Homo sapiens: one gene and its partner. The protein of the gene in region 1 interacts with the protein of each later gene in a pairwise test. Each region holds a gene or a part of one and is shown on either strand. Other genes may lie near its edges. The genes, in order: RFWD3 and UBE2W.

What was found.
Region 2: the proteins of RFWD3 (region 1) and UBE2W interact in a two-hybrid assay, tested with the Homo sapiens proteins (one large-scale study listed by BioGRID and IntAct).

Annotation. Positions count from the first base shown.
Region 1 is NC_000016.10:74,639,080-74,642,906, forward strand, and holds part of RFWD3 (E3 ubiquitin-protein ligase RFWD3), read right to left. Parts: intron 1-3,827. UniProt on the Homo sapiens protein: E3 ubiquitin-protein ligase required for the repair of DNA interstrand cross-links (ICL) in response to DNA damage. Plays a key role in RPA-mediated DNA damage signaling and repair.
Region 2 is NC_000008.11:73,785,631-73,789,029, reverse strand, and holds the end of UBE2W (ubiquitin-conjugating enzyme E2 W), read left to right. Parts: 3' UTR 1-2,811; downstream 2,812-3,399. UniProt on the Homo sapiens protein: Accepts ubiquitin from the E1 complex and catalyzes its covalent attachment to other proteins.

The DNA of each region.
Region 1 (3,827 bases):
CTAGGCTGCAGAGCAGTGGCGTGATCCAGGCTCACGGCTACCTCCGCCCCCCGGGTTCAAGAGATTTCTTGCCTCAGCCTCCCAAGTAGCTGAGATGACCGGCACCTGCCAACACACCCAGCTAATTTTTGTATTTTTAGTAGAGACAGGGTTTCACCATGTTGCCCAGGCTGGTCTCAAACTCCTGGCCTCAAGTGATCCACCTGCCTCAGCCTCCCAAAGTGCTGGGATTACAGGTGTGAGCTACTACACCCAGTGCGCTAAGCCATTTCAATGATTACAACATCACTTACGCAACAGAATTTTCAGCTCCATTATAATCTTATGGGGCCACCATCGTATATGCAATCTGTCATTGACCCAAAGGTCATTATGCAGCACGTGACTGTAAAGTAAAAGGCTAGGCAGGATCTTTATGAAGCAAAATACACTTGTGAAAGACACAAGAAAACAGTGAACAAATGGAAGGATATTACATAATGTTCATGACTGAAAAGACTATCACAAAGATGGTACTTCTCAAGTTACCCTATAATAATTTTTAATGCAATTTCAATCAAGATCCCAAAGGTGTTTTTCATGGAACTTAACAAATTAATTTTAAAAAATTAATATGAAGAACAATGCCAAAAATAGCAAAAAAATACTTTTGCAGAACAAAATGGGGGAACATATATTAAAGCTACAATAAATTATAGCTTGGAATATGTGAGAAAGAATTAACAAAAAGACTGTGGAACAAAAGAGTACAGTGTCTCCTTATCTAGTTTCATTTTCCATGGTTTCTGATATCTGTGATCAACCACAACCTACAAATATCGAGATATGTTGAGAGAGAGATGGAGACCACACTCACATAACTTACTATAGTATACTGGTATAATTGCTCTATTTTATTATTTATTATTGTTAATCTCTTACTGTTCCTAATTTATAAATTATCCTTTAGGTTTGTATGTATAAGAAAAAACATACTACGGTTTCAGGCATTCACTGGGGGCTCTTGAAATGTATTCCTTGTGGCTAAGGGGGGACTACTGTAGCCCATTCATACATGGAAACTTAATTTTTTTTTTTTTTTTTGAAACAGTCTTGCTCTGTTGCCCAGGTTGGAGTGCAGTGGCGTGATCTTGGCTCACTGCAACCTCCGCCTCCTCCCGAGTTCAAGCGATTCTTCTGACTCAGCATCCTGAGTAGCTGGGATTACAGGTGTGTGCCACCACGCCCAGCTAATTTTTGTATTCTTAGTAGAGACACGGTTTCATCATGTTGGTCAGGCTGGTCTCGAACTTCCGACCTTGTGATCCGCCCACCTCAGCCTCCCAAAGTGCTGGGATTACAGGCGTGAGCCAATGCGCCCGCCCGGAAACTTAATTAAGGATAGAAGTAGCAATGAAAATTTGTACAGAAAAATATACTATTTAGTAAATTATAAGTCAGGTGTGGTGGCATGCGCCTGTACTCCCAGCTACTCAGGATGCTGAGGTTGGAGGACTGCTTGAGCCTAGGAATCTGATGGCGCCACTGCACTCTGGCCTTTGTGATAGAGCAAGACCCTGTCTTTAAAAAAAATTTTTTGGCCAGGCGCAGTGGCTCATGCCTGTAATCCCAGCACTCTGGGAGGCCGAGGTGAGTGGATCACGAGGTCAGGAGTTCAAGACCATCCTGGCCAAGATGGTGAAACCCCGTCTCTACTAAAAATACAAAAAATTAGCCAGGCGTGGTGGCGGGTGCCTGTAGTCTCAGCTACTCGTAAGGCTGAGGCAGGAGAATCACTTAAACCCGGGAGGTGGAGGTTGTAGTGAGCTGAGATCACGCCACTGCACTCCAGCCTGGGCGACAGAGCGAGACTCTGTCTCAAAATAAATAAAATTCACAAAGGTATGAAAAAATGAGAAATCTCTCCTTTTTTTTTAAACAAGAAAAGTTTAAGTTAGAAAAGTAATTTGACAATATTTAGGTAAAGCTGAAATTAAATGTGCCCTATAATAAAGCAATTCCATTGCTAGACCTCTCTGCAGCATGGCTAATATTAACAAGTGGAGACAACCTAAATGTCTACCAATGTAAAACACAAACAGATAATTTTTTTTTTTTTTGAAGACAGAGTTTCGCCATTGTTGCCCAAGCAGGAGTGCAATGGTGCGACCTCGGCTCACCACAACCTCTGCCCCCTGGGTTCAAGCTATCCTCCTGCCTCAGTCTCCCGAGTAGCTGGGACTACAGGTGCGTGCCACCATGCCCGGCTAATTTTTGTATTTTTAGTAGAAATGGGGTTTCACCATGTTGGCCAGGCTGGTCTCCAACTCCTGACCTCAGATGATCCGCCCACCTCAGCCCCTCAAAGTGCTGGGATTATAGGTGTGAGCCACCACGCCTGGCCTAAACAGATTAATTTTGACTAGAGAACTAGAATATTATCAAGAAATTGAAATGAAAAAAACTAGAGTCCCATGTATCAACTAGGATATACTCCCAAAGCATAAAATTAAGCAAAAAAGCAAGCTACAGAAGAAAAAGTTATAATCTAACATAACATTTGCATACAGTATAAAAACTTTCTGGCCGGGTGCAGTGCCTCACGCCTGTAATCTCAGCACTTTGGGAGTCCAAGGCAGGCTGATCACGAGGTCAGGAGTTCCAGACCAGCCTGGCCAACACGGTGAAACCCTGTCTCTACTAAAAATACAAAAAAAATTAGCTGGGCATGGTGAAAGGCGCCTGTAATCCCGGCTACTTGGGAGACTGAGGCAGGAGAATTGCTTGAACCTGGGAGGCGGGAAGTTGTAGTGAGCCAAGATTGCACCATTGCAATCCAGCCTGGGCAACAAGAGCAAAACTCCGTCTCCAAAAAAAAAAAAAAAAAAAAAAAAAACCAAAGAAACCAAAAACCAAAACAAAACTTTCTATATCATACTATGTATAATTTACAAATACATATATAGCTAATCAAATACATAATAACTCTTGGGAATGCTGAACACCTAATTCATGAAAGTAGTTCTCTATGGAATTAAGAACTTAGTTCACAGGAAGACTTCTAGTGTACCTTTTTAAATTTGACACAGAGTCTTGCTCTGTTGCCCAGGCTGGAGTGCAGTGGCGCAATCTCAGCTTACAGTAACCTCCGCCTCCCAGGTTCAAGCGATTCTCGTGCCTCAGCCTCCCGAGTTGCTGGCATTACAGGCACGCACCACCACATCCGGATAATTTTTTGTATTTTTAGTAAAGATGGGGTTTTGCCATGCTGCTCAGGCTGGTCTCAAACTCCTGAGCTCAGGCGATCTGCCTGCCTCAGCCTCCCAGAGTGCTAGGATTTCAGGTGTGAGCCACTGTGCCTGGCCCTTCTACTGAATCTATAATTAACTTCTTCTTCTTTAAAATTTTCTTTCCTTTTTTTCCTTCTTGACCTGGTCAACAGATTTATCTTTATTTTTTTGAGACAGGTTCTTACTCTGTCACCCAGGCTAGAGTGCAGTGGCATGACCATAGCTCACTGCAGCCACAACCTCCTGGGCTCAAGAAATCCTCTCTCCTGAGTAGCTGAGACTACAGGTGTGTACCACTACACACGGATAATTTTTTTCATTTTTATTAGAAACAAGGTCTCACAATGTTGCCCATGCTGCTCTCAAACTCCTGGTCTCAAGCAATCCTCCTGCCTCGGCCTTCCAAAGTGCTGGGATTACAGGCATGAGCCACTACACCCAGCCTATTTATTTTCAAAAAGGCTCAAAGCAATATGGCAAAACATTAAGATTTGATAAAATTGGGTAAAAGGCTGTTCGTTTTATTAGTCTGTATCGGCATTTTGAAACTCTTCACTT
Region 2 (3,399 bases), on another chromosome or scaffold:
TATTGTGACTTGTATTTTGTGATGAGTCTCTAGAATGATTAAATGACTATTTTTTTATGAAAAATTTTTTGTTAATAAAATATCTGAGGGTATTTTGAGTATGTGGAAGGAATGCCTGAATAGAAGCTGATCTATCTTAACATACCTCAAGAACTCCAGTTTTAATATGGTGAGTGAGGAGTTGACTGGGAAAAGGAGAGATCCAATTCTTGTTCTAGTCCTTGGCACATACACTCTCTGGGTTTTGAGAAAAGGATGGTCCTACAACGATTCTAAGTTGTTTTCTCATTGGTCCTACAACAATTCTAAGTTGTTTTCTCAAAGGCAAAAGCATGATTTCAAAATGACATCACTTGTCAGATTTTCTGGTGTATGGAAAGATTTAATAATCCTGCCTCTTTTGAAGCCTGAAACTTACAATTTAAAGCCTGAAATCTACCATAAGGAACTTGGTAAATTGTGTCAGATACCATGAAAATGCATCTTTTCATAGTTAACCACAGATTGTTTATGTAAAGGCAAATTGGTGGTCAGGTTCAAGGTAAAATGGATTATTGGGTTGATTAGTAGCCAAAAACTAAATGCATGTTCAGGTCAAAATGAATTTGTTTGTTTTAGTTGGTGCCATTTTCCTTTTATTATTCAGAACTACAGAGTGTGCATTTTATTAATAGGAATGAAAGCTCATGCTTGAGGATTTGAATAGGGTGGATGTATATATTTTATAAACTCAAGTTGCAAAATATGTAAAGTCACTACTTTTTAAATAGAATATAAATGTTAAAACAGACAAATCTATGTTATATATTTTTTAATACATGTATCAGACTTGTTAGTTGAATGCAGATTACTTTGCTTTATGGAATTTCATAACTTTTAATAATAAAGCAGTTGTTATTGGATTTTTTCTGTAGACTTGAATACTAAATGGGATAGATACCAGACCTCTTTTTGGTTTATGACGTAAAAGTATTTGTACAGTAGTTTCTCTTCACAAAAGACTGAATTTTAAAGGATTATAGAAACAGGAACATGTCCATTTCCAAAATGAGTGCAACAGAATGAAGATAGTCACTTAAACCATCTATTTAACACATCACCTTTATGTAATATGTAGCTAGTTTTAGTGTTTTAATAAGTCCCAACTAAAGACTGAGTGTTTTCAGTGAAGATGGAAATGGAGACCCAGGCACTTGCTTAGAGTTATCGTGAGTCCGATGTTCCTGAACTTCAAGTTGTACAATTAAGGGCATACTCTAAGAACTTCTGGATGCTTTCTGGAGTATACAAACAGATCAACTAATGACTTAAATGAGTGACTCTTGAAGCTGCAAGAAGAGGAAAGAAATAACCACAAGAAGGGGCTATCTCAGCATCTGTTATTCCTGACAGGAGGAATTAAATATGCTCTGCTGGTAATTCTAAGCTTTTCTGCAGGGGATCTGCTTGCCCCAGGAGCACCTTAGTCCTCATTGAGGCAGCCATTCTGCCATAAAAACGATCATGTCTCAAGCTGTTCCTGCCGTCCTACACAACTATGTTAGTAGATGGTTAGATAAATATATGAACCATCTTTTGTACTTTGATGATGCCCTTTTCCTTTATTATAATCCTTAATTTCTACTTTCCATAGTAGGATTTGACTTTTCTCCATTAGTTTAAGCTACCCTGGATAAGTGACTCTGTTTATGTCCTCCCTATATTTCTTACTCATTTTCACACTAACATAACACGTAACAAAATTAAACATAAGCTAAATTGAAGAAGCAAGTGAGACAGCTAAGAGTTTTGTGTACTTGGACAACAAAGCTCAAAGCCACTGTGGTTATCTGTCCTGTTGGGAGCCCCTTTCAACCATTTTTTTAGTTGCCTGTAAGATTTATTTTTAATGTTTGCCTGCATAATGCAAAATACATAAGTGGGAATCCCTACGCCCTTTACAGTTAAGTGGATTATGGAAATAATAAGGAAAGTTTATCAACTAAGGTAGGAAATATCTTCTCATGTCTGTATCTGGCCTTCAGGGACTTAATGTGGGTGAATATATGTCATTAGACAAGATCCTAATATAGATGGCTGTATCCTGCAGATAGCCAATTCAACATTAAAATTTTATGTTTCCATACCTCAATGAAAACATATTTCTTTTATCCTGTTATAATTTAATGACATTCCCATCCAACTTAATCAAGCAATGATACTCAGTAGTCCTCTCCTTGCATTTTTCAAGTCCTGTTGAGTGTAACTTTAAAATGTCTCTGAGATTTCTACCTTCTCTCCAGTCTCCTTACCATTAGGGCCTTTCACTACCTGGCCTTGGTGTCCCTAGGCTGCTCTTCAGCTGTCCACAAACCTTGTTTCATAAGCAGTAGCAATGCAAGCTTCCACTGCCGTCTGCTAATGTTCTTCCCTCCTAGAATGTTCATGATCTGCGTTTCTACCTGAAAGGTCTAGTTCAAAGGTAGCTGAAAGGTTATCATCCTTGTCCTTTCTTCTCTCCCTACCAGTCATCTATCCTGAACTTTTTAACAGTAGGGACAGTGTTGCAATTGTGTTTGTGTCCCCAGCACGTAGCACACAGTACCTAGTATACAGTACCTGTAGCACATAGGCATTTAATAAGTGTGTATTGAATTAACTTGGTTATGCTTGTATTTTTATCCTAGCTTTCTCAAAGAAACTTAGGTGCTAGCTATTTTGAAACATATATCCAGAACCACCACCTGAGTAAAATGTATAACAGGACCCTGCTCTTTCTATCCCAGAGAGTTTGAGAAAACTACTTTTAAATAAATCATTAATCATTCTTCATTGGTTTTGGCTTTTTTTATAGGTGTTTCTCATATCTTTATCTCTGAGGCAAATTGCTTGTCACAAATTAATTGTTTTAAACTAAATACATCTCAGGAACCATAAAATCATAAAGGTAAACCTGACATAGAGTTTAAAAACCAGCATTAAGCAGATAATTATTGTGTGCCTTTCATATGCCAAGAAGGATGGCAGATGAGGTATATATCTTCAAAGGGCATATGTAATAAGGGAGATAATAAATAGAAAAGCATATCATATAAAATGTGACAAGCCTTAAGAGGTGCAGATAGTTTCTGATTATCAAAGAAACATGTCTGTGAAAAGTACTGTCATGCATAAAGATGGGCCAGGCACAGTGGCTTACGCCTGTAATCCCAGTACTTTGGGCAGGTGGATCACGTCAGGAGCTTGAGACCAGCCTGGCCAACATGGTGAAACCCCGTATCTACTAAAAATAAAATAACGGCGTGGTGGTGGGCGCCTGTAATCCCGGCTACTTGGGAGGCTGAGGCAGGAGAATAGCTTGAATCCGGGAGGCAGAGGTTGCAGTGAACTAAGATCATGCCATTGCACTCCAGCCTGGGA